Linked DNA regions of Homo sapiens. The protein of the gene in region 1 purifies or fractionates together with the protein of each later gene. This does not show direct contact. Each region holds a gene or a part of one and is shown on either strand. Other genes may lie near its edges. The genes, in order: CD200R1 and FUT8.

Evidence for each region.
Region 2: the proteins of CD200R1 (region 1) and FUT8 purify together in Homo sapiens (affinity purification with mass spectrometry; 2 studies listed by BioGRID and IntAct, with this or other methods). This does not show direct contact.

Annotation. Positions count from the first base shown.
Region 1 is NC_000003.12:112,943,894-112,951,178, forward strand, and holds part of CD200R1 (cell surface glycoprotein CD200 receptor 1 isoform a precursor), read right to left. Parts: intron 4,032-7,285; coding exon 3,963-4,031; intron 1-3,962. UniProt on the Homo sapiens protein: Inhibitory receptor for the CD200/OX2 cell surface glycoprotein. Limits inflammation by inhibiting the expression of pro-inflammatory molecules including TNF-alpha, interferons, and inducible nitric oxide synthase (iNOS) in response to selected stimuli.
Region 2 is NC_000014.9:65,415,540-65,422,824, reverse strand, and holds part of FUT8 (alpha-(1,6)-fucosyltransferase), read right to left. Parts: intron 1-7,285. UniProt on the Homo sapiens protein: Catalyzes the addition of fucose in alpha 1-6 linkage to the first GlcNAc residue, next to the peptide chains in N-glycans.

The DNA.
Region 1 (7,285 bases):
AAAACAATTTGGCAGTTTAAACAGGACTATATCTAGTAAATAAATTAAAGGAGAAACAGGCAAATTGAACAGGACTGTATCTATTAAATAAATTGAATCAATAATTAATAACCTTTCAGGACACACAGTACGAGGCCTAGATGGGTTCACTGATAAATTCTGTTAAATATTTAAGGAAGAAATCATACCAGCTCTCCTTAATCTCTTTCAGAAACAGAAGCAGAGGGAATGCTTCCTAACTCATTCTATCAGGTTAGCATTATCCTAATAACCAAACCAGACAAAAACATTACAAAAAAGAAAACCACAGACCAATATCTCTCATAAACATACATTTTTAAATCCTCAGTAAAATATTAGTAAATCAAATTCAAGAATGTAGTAAAAGAATTATATTCCATGAACAACTGGGGTTTATTCCAGATATGCAAGCCTGGCTCAAAATTCAAAAATGAATTAATATCTTCCATCACATCAATAAGCTAAATAATATGATCATTTCCATAGATACATAAAAAGCATTTGACAAAATTTAACATTCATTTATGATTTTTTAAAAACTCTCAGTAAACTGGGATAAAGAGAAATTTCTCAACTTAAAAAACATCTACAAAAAACTCTACAGCTAGCATCATAATTAATGGTGAGAAAGCAAAGCATCAGGAGCAAAGCAAGATGACTCTTTTCACCACTGCTTTTCTAACTAATGCTTTTCTAACTAATTCACCACTGGAATTTCTAACTAATGCAATAAGACAAGAAAAAATAAATAAAAGGGATCAAGATCAGTAACGAAGAAATAAAACTGTCTTTGTTCATACATGACATAATTATCTATGTAAAGCATCTGAAAGAATTGACCAAAAAAACTCCTAGAACTAATAAGAAATTGCAGCAAGGTTGCAAAATACAAGGTTAACATACAAAAGTCAATTTTTTGTATTGTATTGACTCATTGATGTGATGGAAGATATTAATTCAAGGTTAACATACAAAAGTCAATGTTTGTATGACAATTTCCAATAAGTCACCAGTGAACAAGTGGAATTTGAAGTTAAAAACACAATACCATTTATATTAGCATCCCCAAAAATGAAATACTTAGGTATAAGTCTAACAAAATATGTGCAACATCTATATGAGGAAAACTATAAAACTCTGATGGAAAAGAATCAAAGAAAATCTAAGTAAATGGAGTGAGACCTCATGTTCACAGATAGGGTGAATGAATATTACCAAAGTCCCAGTTTTTCCCAACTTGATCTATGTATTCAACACAATCCCAACCAAAATCTCAGCAAGTTATTTTATGGACATAAACAAACTGATTTTTAAGTTTATCTAGAGAGGCAAAAGACTCAGAATAGTCAACACATTATTGAAGAAGAACAAAGTTTGAGGCCTGACACTATTCGACTTCAAGATTTACTATAAAGCTACAATAATCAAGTCAGTATTTTATTAGCAAAAGAAGAGCTAAATAAGTAAATGAAACCAAATAGAGAGCCCAGAAATAGGCTCACATAAATATTGTATTTGGAAATTAGCAAAGGCAATACATTGGAGTCTTTTGAACAAATGGTGTTGGAACGACTGGACATCCAGATGCAAAAATAAATTAAATCTAGATACAGACCTCACACCTTTCACAAAAATAAACTCAAAATGGATCAGTGTCCTAAATATAAAAATGCAAAACTAAAAACACTCCTAGAAGGTAACATAAGAGAAAGTCCAAATGATCTTTGGTTTGGCAGTGACATTTTAGCTACCACAGTAAAGGCACAATCCATAAAATAAAGAATCTATAAACTGGACTTCAGTAAAATTAAAAATTTCTACTCTGTGAAAAATTTCTAAGAGCAGTGGCTCACGCCTGTAATCACAGCACTTTGGAAGGCCGAGGCGGGCGGATCACGAGGTCAGGAAATCGAGACCATCTTGGCTAACACGGTGAAACCCCGTCTCTACTAAAAATACAAAAATTAGCAGGGCGTGGTAGCTGGCGCCTGTAGTCCCAGCTACTCTACTCCGGAGGCTGAGGCAGAAGAATGGCGTGAACCCGGGAGGCGGAGCTTGCAGTGAGCCAAGATCGCGCCACTGCACTCCAGCCTGGGCGACAAAGCGAGACTCCGTCTCAAAAAAAAAAAAAAAAAAAAGGAGAACGAAAAGATAAGCCACATACTAAAAAAAAAATACAGTCATCCCTTGTTGCCTCTGAGGGATTCCATCACCCCATGGATACCAAAATCCACAGATGCTCATATCCCTTGTATAAAATGGCTTAGTATTTGCATATAACCACCTGTATTTTTTAAATCGTCTCTAGATTACTTATAATACCTAATACAATGCCTGTATATCACTACATCCTGTGGACTCAATGTAGTAAGGCAAATTCAAGTTTTGCTTTTTGGAACTTTGTGGAATTTTTTCCAAATATTTCCAATCCATGGTTGGTTGGATCCACAGATTTGAAACCCATGGATACAGAGGGCCAACTGTATTTTCAAAAGACATATCCGATAAAAGACTGTTATCCAAAACACACAAAGGAACCTTAAAACTCAGCAATATGCAAGCAAACAACCAGATTAAAAAACAGGTCAAAAATCTTAACAGGCACTTTACCAAAGAAGATATATATGGAAAATGTACATATTTATGGAAAATAAGCATATGAAAAGATGCTCTACATCATATGTCATCAAAGAAAGGCAAATTAAAACAACAATGAGAACCACTACACACCAAAGGCGAGGAGTGGAGCAACAGGAACTTAATTGGTAGCAGGAATGCAAAGTGGTACATCTACTTTGAAAGACAGTTTGGCAGTTTCTTACAAAACTAAGCAATCTCCTACCATGCAATCCAACAATCATGCTTTTTGGTATTTACCCTAAGAGTTGAAAACTTACATCCATACAAAAACCCGTGCATGGGTGTTAATTGCAGCTTTTTTCCTAATTGCCAAAACTTGGAAGCAGCCAAGATGTCTTTTACCAGGCAAATGAATAAACTGTGGTATAGTCAAACAATGGAATATTATTCAGTACTAAAAAAAAAGAGCCATTAAGACATGGAAAGTCATGGGGGAACACTTAAATGCATATTATTAAGTGAAAAAAGCCAGTCTGAAAATGCTGCATACTGTAACGTTCCAATTATATGACACTCTGGAAAAGACAAAACTATGGAGACAGTATACCAGGATTGCCTGGGGTTAGTGGGCAGGGAAGGATGAATAGGTAGAATAGAGACGATTTTTAGGTCAGTGAAATTACTCTATAAAATATTATCATGGTGGAGACATGTCATTATGCATTTGCCTGAAAACATTCATATTCAACCCTAAAAGTGACCTCTAATGCAAACTTTGGACTTTGATAATGTGATAATGATGATGTTTCAATGTAGGTTCATTAATTGAAACAAATGTACCACTCTAGTCAGGTATGTTGATAATGGGGAGGCTTTGCACATGTGGGGGCAGAGGTCATAGGGGAAATTTCTGTACTTTCCACTCAATTGTGCTACGATCCTAAAACTTCTCTAAAAAAATAAAGTCTGTTAACTTTTCTTTTCTGTTTCAATGTTAATTAAAATGGCAAACAAAAATTTTGGAGAAAATAGGGTTGAGAGAGGATATAGAAAATAAATCATTAACACCTATTAAGATCTGCTTATTAAAAAGTGCTCTGGGATAATAATCTAGGTTTCAAAAGTTGAATAACAAATTTTTTGAATAGGCCATTGGTTTTGTTTAGTGATCCCATTCTTAAAATAGGTACTAAATAAGCATAGAAATAATTTCAGAATGAAAAATTTATTAACACTCTTAAATATAATATCATTTAGATAATACAGATAATGCATGAGACAATTCAAGATCCAAAAATGTAAAACCTATATGGACATCAAGCACTCCCCTACTAGAATTATTGTTAAAAGATGCACATTACCTAAAGCATGATTCTCCTTGCTAGTTTGCAGCATTAATGAGTTGTTTGGTTGAGCAGCACCCTCCGCTTCTGAATTTTGAAAAAGACATAGGGGGTAGAGAGAGAAATATGCATTAATAGATCTGACTCCTAGTTAAAATCATATTTTTTCACATTCTTCAGACTATTTTTGTATTGCAGTTGCCAATGAATATCTAAATTATGACAGCCAAGCAAAAGTCTTGGCAAAATTTGTCCCAGTATAAACTTTTGACTTTCTCTTCCTGACTCTGGCATAGTCCTGCTTTAAGCCCAGAGTGCCCATCACCCCCCTCTTGCTTTATATTCAAGTCTTCTTCCAGGCTTTTAGTCTATCTCTGAGTGTGGAAGAAATTATTTTACTAGGCTTTTCAAGCACCAATGAGGAGGTAAAAAAAGTTTAGTGGGGACTATTGATTGGCTGCTGGTATGGAATAAAAGGATTTTCCTAAGCATTGTTGAAGTCACATCATAGAATCTATGATGGGAAAACGGTCCCCAACCTTTTTGGCACCAGGGACCCATTTCGAGGAAGATAATTTTTCCACCACGGACAAGGAGGAAGGGAGCACGATAGTTCTCGGATGAAACTGTTACACCTCAGATCATCAGGCATTAGTTCAATTCTCATAAGGAATGCACAGCCTAGATTCCTGGCATGCACAGTTCACAATAGGGTTCATGCTCCTGTGAGCATCTAATGCCTCCAACTGATCTGACAAGAGGTGGAGCTCAGGCCGCAATTCTCACTCACCTGCCGCTCACCCCCTGCTGTGCGGCCCAATCCCTAATAGGCCAAGGACTGGTACCAGTCTGCAGCCCCAGGGTTGGGGACCCGTGATATAGACAATGGCCTATTAAGTTCACATTTCTGCAAGGCAAGCTCTTAGTGAGAATTGGTAGTACACATCTTTTAAGCAGCAATTATTGGCAAAGTACTCTGCTAGGCACAGAGATATCATAATAAACAATATCCCCTTTTTTCCAAGAGCTTAAGATCCAGGAGAGGCAGTAGCTAGGGAAACAATTATAATGCAAAGTTTTCAGTGCAATGATCGAAGTTGCCTGTGATGTATAGAAGTTTAAAAGAAGAGATGTTTAAATTCCAGGAAAACAGGAGTAAGAGATTAGGCATGCTTTCCTATAATAAGTAATTTTTTAGCTGGATCTAAGTACATGAGGAGTTTTCCAGGAAGACAGAAGGGAAAATGCAAACAAAAATAATGGCATTTAAAGGAGGTACAAAGCCAAATAAAAATTTACAAGAGTTATAAATAGTTTAGTATTGCCATGAAGTGAGAAAACCTGGATGTGTAATTGGAGTTGAGGCTGGATATCGGCAGGCTCTAACTGTGCAAGGCACAAAGCTCCTGGAATGTGTTCACAAGGAAAAGATACACTCGTAGCTTATCTATAGTGAGTGTATCTGACTGGCAAAGAGACACCTTTTAGAGTAAAATTTAATGCTCAGTGTTTTTCTGGAAAAAGTTTTAATCTACTGCCCCTTTCAGCTGCCATTTTCTTTAGCAAACTGTTCTTTTAAGATAATTTATGGAATGAGTATAACAGGAATAGATTTTGGGTAATTTGCCTATGTTCTTTATTTCCATCTCTCTATAACTAGCAGATATGATTATTTTCATTTTACAGATAAAGAAATGTAGATTAAGTGATTAAGCAATTTGACCAAGACTACCTGGCTAGTAAGCTGCTTCAGTTACCCAATTATGAATCTTAGTGCAAGTAAGTCTTACTGCTATGAGTAGAAATCAATGGTTAGAGCCTAAGAAATATGCTAGGATAGATACACAACCCAAATTAACCCAAACTGAAGTGAGTTTAAGCCATGTTATTGCAAGAGCACTGAGAGACAAACTTTTAAAAAAGCAGATCGCATGGCAAGTCCATAAAATCAGGATTACAAAGGCATCTGGACACAGACACTATGAATTCTAGATCTGAACGGGAATAGTTAAGTTCGGGAAGAGACAATTGTCAGAATTCATGGGCTTAGAACAGTGGCCTGCACAGCTCCCTGGCACGTGGCTAGATGAAGCTGGATTAAAAATAAAGATCAACCCAAACCTATAGCAAACCAGACTAAACATATGGACAGAAATTTTATGGAAAAAGAAGTAAAAATATCTCTTAGTCATATGAAAATATATTTCACATCAGTCATGGTAAGAGGAATCCAAATTAAAAGTATTTGGAAATACCATTTCTCATCTATAACTGGCAAAATCCAAAAGTTTGACAACATACACTGTTGGGTGAGGTTGTGGAGAGATAGGTATGTCTGTATGTTGGTATTGTTCAATTTTATAGTGAGGAAGAAAGAAGATAATAGATGTAAAATAAGTAAGTTTAATACAAAAATTAGCCGGATGTGGTGGCAGATGCCTGTAATCCCAGCTACTTGGGAGGCTGATGCAGAGAATTGCTTGAACCCGGGAGGCAGAGGTTGCAGTGAGCTGAGATCACACCACTGCACTCCAGCCTGGGTGACAGAGTGACACTCCGTCAAAGAAAAAAAAAAAAAGGAAAAAAAAATCCTCAGTCCTAAATTTTAATGAAAAGTATCAATATCAACTTAAGATGTATTTTTATCTTTCAAAATACATATTTCTTATCTGCTGCTAAGTTGTGGGGTAATTCATTACATAGTTATAAACAACTAATATAGTTATCAACCACACTGACCTAATTCATATTTTTAGTACCCTAACCCAGCATCTGCAGAATACATTCTTTGCAAGTGCACATCGTATATTCGCTGAGTTTGGCCACATTCTGTGCCACAAGTCTCAAAAACATTAAAAAAAACTGAAGTCATATAAAAGATGTCCTCCAACCAAAACAGAATTGAATTAGAAATCAATTACAATGAGATTTTTAAGAAAATACCAAATATTTAGAAATCAAACACACGTCTAAGCAACCCTTTGCTCAAAGAAGAAATTCATGAAGAAATTAAAGTTTTCACTGGATGATAATGAAAATACAACATGCCAAAATTTGAAATAAGCAGCTAACACAGTGGTTTTAGGAAAAGTAATACCTTTAAGTGCTAATTTTAAAGGAAGAAATGTGTAAAATTCACCCATAGAAGCAAGAAACAAAAGAGAGAAAACACAATAATAAATATAAGAGCAGAAATCAATAAAAGAGGAAACAAGCAATGCAAAAAATTAAGGAAATCAAAAGCTAGTTCTTTAAAAAGATAATCAACATTTATAAACTAACAACTAGACTGATAAGGAAAAAAATAGAACACAAATCTCTAATATCAGGAAGGAAGGAAG
Region 2 (7,285 bases), on another chromosome or scaffold:
TTTTTTTAATTAGCTGGGGGAAGGCATAATGGCTCACACCTGTAACCCCAGCACTCTGGAAGGCCCAGGTGGGAGGATCACCTAAGGCCAGGAGTTTAAGACCAGACTGGGCAACACAGTGAGACCCTGTCTCTACAAAAAAATAAAAAATATTTAAAAATTAGCCAGGCATAGTGGTGCACACTTGCATCCCAGCTATTCGGGAGGCTGAGGCAGGAGGACTGCCTAAGTCCAGGAGTTTGAGACTGCGGTGAGCTATGATCATGCCATTTGCATGTCAGCCTGGGCAATTGAGCAAGACCCTATCTCTTAAAAAAAAAAGAAATATGGAGAAAGAATATCCGCCTAAACAAGTTTTTAATATAGACAAAAGTGCCCTATTCTGGAAAACAATGCCATAAAAAACATTCATTAGTAAGGAAGAGAAAAAGCACCAGGATTAAAGGCAGGAAGGGATGGGCTAACTCTACTGTTTGGTGAAAATGCAGTGTGGTTTATGATCAGAACTGCCCTTATCTATAATGCTACAAACCCCCAAGCCTTGAAGGGAAAAGATAAACACCAGCTCCCAGTCTTTTGGTCATAGAACAAAAAAAGCCTGGGCAATGAGAACCCTTTTTCTGGATTGGTTCCATTGATGCTTTGTCCCTGAAGTCAGGAAGTATTTTGCCTGTAAGTTCTTTTATTATTGAACAATACCCCTGGCCACCCGGAACCCCATGAGTTCAACACCAAAGGTGCTGAAGTAGTCTACTTGCCCCCAAACAAAATGTCTCTAATTCAGCTTCTAAATCAGGGGGTCACGAGGATCACTGGACACAGTACACTACAGAAAGTACTGTCAACTCTATGAAAGAGAATGCCAATAAAGAAACCATCCTGAAAGTCTGGAAGGATTACACCACTGAAGAAGCCGTCGTTGTTATGGAAAAAGCCATGAAAGCCATCAAGCCTGAAACAATAAATTCCTGCTGGAGAAGACTGTGTCCAGATGTTGTGCATGACTTCACAGGATTTGCCACAGGGCCAATCAAGGAAATCACGAAAAAGACTGTGGATATGGCAAAAAAAAAAAAAGGGGGGGGTGGGTTAAAGGGTTTCAAGATACAAATCTTGGAGAAATTCAAGAAATAGACATCACACAAGAGGAATTTAAAAAGATGACTCGGTAAGTGCTTCCAATCCAGTACCAGGTAATGTAGAAGGAATGCAAGAAAACAAAATGACATCAGACGATATGGCAGAAGACTGTCTGATTGTTCAAGACTGCTTTTGACTCCTTCATGACATGGACCCTTCTCTGATATGGGCACTGAAACTAAAGCAAACGGTGGAAGAAGGATTGGTACCATATGGAAATGTTTTCAGAGAAATGAAAAAGCAAAAAAGGCAGAAGTATGACGTATTGCCATAAAGTTACACCATGTGTGCCTGCCTCTCACGCCTCCCCTTCCCCCTTCCACCTCTACCATGCTGAGACCAACAAGACGAATTCCTCCGCTTCCTTCTCCTCTCAGCCTACTCAATGTGGAGACAATGAGGATAAAGGCCTTTGTGATGATCCACTTCCACTTAATGAAGAGTAAATATATTCTCTCTTCCTTATGATTTTTTTTTTTTTTTTTTTTTTCCTGAGATGGAGTCCCGCTCTGTCGCCAGGCTGGAGGGCAGTGACACAACCTTGGCTCACTGCAACCTCCACCTTCTAGGTTCAAGCAATTCTCCTGCCTCAGCCTCCTGAATAGCTGAGACTACAGGCACATGCAACCACGCCCAGCTAATTTTTGTATTTTTAGTAGAGATGGAGTTTCACCATGTTGGCCAGGATGGTCTCGATCTCTTGACCTCAAGATCCGCCCACCTTGGCCTCCCAAAGTGCTGGGATTACAGGCGTGAGCCACGGCGCCCGGCCTATGATTTTCTTAATAACATTTTCTTTTCTCTAGCTTACTTTGAGAACACAGTATATAATACATATAAGGTACAATGTGTTAGTTGACTATGTCATCGGTAAGGCTGGAAGTCAACAGTAGTTTATTAGTAATTAAGTTTTTGAGGAGATAAAAGTTACATGTGGATTTTCATCTTGATGGGGGTCTGTGCCCCAAACCCAGTGCTGTTCAAGGGTGAACTATACGTGCTGAAAAGTGTCATTAAAATATGAAGAAACCAACTTTTCTCTAAACTTTAGATGCACTTCCCTGAATAATTTCCAAAGGTTGGGTATCTTATTTTCCAACCGTGCATTTACAAGCAGAAACAGCAAACGATAGGTACTATACTGATATACATGTAGAAATGAACACATGATCCCTATTAAAACATTTTCATTATTTATCATTATTTCCTTTCAGGTACTTCTGTACTACTCTAAGCCTCTGTAGACAGTCATATAGAGGATGTGTTCTGGCCAAGTTTGGTGGCTCACACCTGTAATCCCAGCATTTTGGGAGGCCAAGGGAGGAGGACCACTTGAGCCTAGGAATTCAACACCAGCCTGGGCAACAGAGCAAGACCTCATCTCTAAAATAAAATAAAAAATAAAAATAAAAAAAGGATGTGTTCTTTTCTTTGTTATCTAGTCTGACAAAAATTTCTCCAAAATAGACTTCTTTGGTAATTTTATTTTCATTACATCTTTATGCCATTAAAACCTAAACACTAATCTTTTTTTTATTATTATTAAGAGGAACTATTCCTAATTGCACATTACCAGGTTTCTGTTGCTTATTATTTGGTGCATCCTCAGTAGGTATACATCTTTTCAGCTTACTCAGCATTGAGAACATAATATTGTGTGTTTGTTTACTTACAAATTAAAAGTAACATTATATCTCTCATCGTATGCACACTTGACAACCTATGAGATGTATCAAGCAGATACTTCTAATATTTGAACCTTAAAAATAAACGGAATTTTAGTTGATAGAGGGCTGGATGTCTGTAATTATGTCACGAAGCAATCAGGGTTATCAGTACATCTACATTTCTCACGCTGTTGAGGGGGTCGGTTTACCAAGCATAAGACAGGACCTTTTGGCCTCAAGAATTTCAGTTACAACCTGCCTAACCCCTAGAGTTTCACTAAACTTCCTAAGAGAGAAAGAAAAACCTAAAACTTAGAAAAAGAAAGCAAATTGTTTACCCTGGCTTAGTTCTAATTGTAAAGAATCAACTTTCTCAAAATTACAATCTTTTGACATTTGGCAACTGAATGAATCAAGTAGTTATTCAGAGAGCTCAAGACATAAAAACTAATACAACTTCTATTATATATTTTTCTCCTTCAGGTACCAGTACAATTCCATGTGTTGGAGAAATTGAGTAAGTCAAATCCCAATTGATTAGGCCCTAATTATCAAAGACACTTTCACCTTGTGAACTTCTCACAGTAACTGTCTTAAACCTGCTAACAGTACTCCCATGAGTGGAGAACACTGTGCTTCATTTTTAGTTTAATATGTTAGTTCTCTTCAATGAACATAGTTTTTTTTTTTACATTACAGTAATGAGGCACATGAAGGTTAGAATTTGTTTTTGTTTTTTTGTTTTGTTTTGTTTTTTGAGACAGAGTTTCACTCTTGTTGTCCAGGCTGGAGTGCAATGGCAAGATCTCGGCTCACTGCAACCTCCGCCTCCTGGGTTCAAGTGATTCTCCTGCCTCAGCCTCCCGGGTTCAAGTGATTCTCCTGCCTCAGCCTCCCAAGTAGCTACGATTACAGGCATGTGCCACCATGCCCGACTAATTTTGTATTTTTAGTAAAGATGAGGTTTCTCCATGTTGGTCAGGCTGGTCTCCAACTCCTGACCTCAGGTGATCCACCTGCCTCGGCCTCCCAAAGTGCTGGGATTACAGGCATGAGCCACCGCGCCCGGCCTATAAAATCATTTTTAATAAATAATATTAAATGCTATACAAATGAAGTTCTTCTAGTCTCTTGCCTACCACCTCAAAAGGAAATGATATCATTATAATAAACCTATTATAACATAAAAGCTAATGTTTTACCTGGAAATGTTCTATGAACTCTAAGGAAAAAAGTATACTGTAAAGATGGTCAATTCCCGCATTTCTTACCATTGCTAGAAGAGGATGACAAACAAGGAGAAGTAAGTAGAGGGAAAGAGAAAAACTGAATAAATCTCCTTCATCTCCAAATAAGGCAAGCTCATCAACCAGTATGCTCCTCTCTCTATCTCCCTCTCTTCACTGACTGCCCCAAGGTCCCAGACAATACAGAATCTATAAATTATATCTGTCCACTTTACCACTAATTAAGATATTACTATCAATTGTATTAATTGTAAAAATGCTTAGATTAGCTTATGGAATGTTGGCTTAAGTCATTAAATAACATTACAATGCTTTTATTATAGTTTTGATGGTTTGTAAATATTGTTTATACTCTAACCAAATTTAATCTGGTTCTAGATATTATTAGAATTTGATATCTCATTTAAGGGATATTATAGAAAAATCAGTCACAACATTGATAAAAACTTAAAACTCATTCATTGTCCATTGAAAGTCTTGATCAAATAAGACTTAGACAGATACACAGGTTCATTTTAGTTATACGTTAAAGGTAATTAAGAGGACTCTCCCATTTTCATTTTACTTTTGTTCAAGTTTACAATCAGAAAGTTATAGCATTTATGCACTTTCAAGTTTATATCATGAAGTTTATTCATTAGAAAAACTAATTCTAACCGTCTTCATGTGCCTCATTGCTACATGATATAAACTCATTACTCAGGTTCTAAAATAAACATTAGCTTAATTTTCCATTTTCATCTAAGATTATTATCAATGTTTTATTATTTTATAATGTGAACTTTATACTGACCAGTCATCAAGGCTGTGACAAGATCTTTCAAGTTCGTTTTCATATTTATTCAGTTTATGGAAAAATAAATTTTAAAAACCCAAGTTATAAAATACAACAAATACAGTGAGCATTTCGTAGTGATCTTTAAAAGTTTTTCTTTTATTCCAGTGCTTCGAGGAAGAAGTTATAGTATAACTATACAATCACTATAGAAGAAAAGGCAGAATAGCAAAGGCAAATTTGAACCACATTAACACTACCCTTATATTGGTATAATTTGTTAATTAAAAGAAGATTTATAAATTCAAAACGTATTTCTCCTTCACATTGTCATTTTCTGACCAAAAAAAAGACTACCACAAAGAGGTATTTTTTTAAAGTAGATGGGTAAGAAAATTTAAATGAAATTAGCCCTATAACTCTGCTTTCAGTAAGAGTACAAAAGTAACCCTTATATTGACAAATACGGCATAATTCCATAGGTCCCATTTGCTCTTCCTCCGTTAAAAGGAAAATGTGTAGTATCATATAAAGTTTATATGGGTTTTATGTTCAGAATATTGTAGAGATTAAGAAAAACCTTTGCCTGGTGGGAGGTAAGATTAACTTTATTGGTTTGATTTCCCATTATTCCAAATGGAAGACTGTTGGATGATGGGGGGTAGCTGGGGAAAGGAAAAAAATGCCAGGAGATTAGAATGTTGAAAGAAAGAGAAGTTGAGATTTGAAACTAATCCATTTTTTAAAAATCTTACAACCAAGCATGGTAGCTCACGCCTGTGGGAGGCCAAGGTGGGATGATCACTTGAGGTCAGGAGTTCAAGACCAGCCTGGGCAACATGGCAAGACCCTGTCTCTTTTAAACTTAGAAACAAACAAACAAACAAAAATCTTTTTAATAAAATAAAGGAGCCGGGTACAGTGACTCACGCCTGTAATCCCAGCATTTTAGGAGGCCAAGGTGTGAGGACCACTTGACCCCAGGAGTTCAAGACAAACCTGGGCAACATACCAAGGTCTCATCTCTACAAATATTAAAAAATAATTAGCCACGCATGGTGGCATGCACCCATAATCCCAGATACTCCAGAGGCTAAGGCGGGAGAATGGCTTGAACCAGGGAGTTCAAGGCTGCAGTGAGCCGTGATCACGCCACTACTGCACTCCAACCTGGGCAACATAGAGAGACAACCCCCAACCCCAATCTCAAAAAAAAAAAAAAAAAAATTAAAGAAAATAAAATGTTAAATCTACACATCCCCATATAATATTCTTCTGTTGGAGATTTTTTTACAGGTTCTTTAAAAATCAGTCGTAAATATCTTTTACTTTTAAATATGTTTAATTGTTTCACTATAACAAGCTGCAATGTAAAAACAATTCAAACTCCAAGAAAGAAACTCCATACTATACGGTAGTGAAATATGAGCCAGAGAATCAATAAGAGGATGCTACACTACTGTTGAAGACCAGAAGTTGATATCTCCTTTGAAAAGTATCAACAGAAGCAGCATTGATGCAGGGTACAAAAGTACTATAATAAAGCTGGCTGTGGTAGCACATGCCTATAGTCCCAGCTACTCAAGAGACTGAGGTAGGAGGATTGCTTGAGCCCAGGAGTTCAAGGCCAACCTGGACAAAACAGCAAGATCACATCTCTTTGGGGGAAAAAAAAAAAAAGGTACCATAATAGTAATACTTTTAGTTTCAGAGTTGTTTAAAAATCTTAATTTTATGTTTAGTAAAGTAACTTATTCAAGTTTTTTTAAATATTTACTCTTATGATTGTAAAACTTTCTTTTATATTTATCAATTTGCTATAATATGAAATGATGTATCCACCATTTAACTAAATCAAGAGATTTATTAAATGCAGTTTATCATAAATCAAAAATAACCATTAATGAAATGGAAGAATCTATTTACTTTATCAGCATTGAGATTCTATTTACATAATGAAGAGCTATGGATAATAAACAGCCCAAACACTATCTGCAAAAAAACCAATATTCCAATGATTTTAATATACATATAACTATCAGTTTCTAGGCTTGGATTTAAAGAATATGTGAATGGAAAGAAGTAAATTAACATACTAATTTATTACAGCTTAGAAACCTAAATGAAATGCCACAGGCCACAAAACAACTGCTTCGTATTCAAAGGCACACATTCAATTTGGTAGATCAGCTGGACGCACTGCATTATACTGCAGGAGATAAGGGTTAAGTGACCTGGGGATATTGTTCTCCAGATGTCTAAAAGGTCCATTTTTTTATTGGAATTATCTCTACTTTAAAAAAAAAAAAAAAAGGAATTATATCTACTTTTGATAAATACCTAGCTTACCACACAATTAATACCTTCGCCCATATAAGATTCTACTTGAAGCTTCGTTTTTGAAATTTTAGGATTGTAGCTATTATAAAAACAAAATTTAAGAACACACAACATGT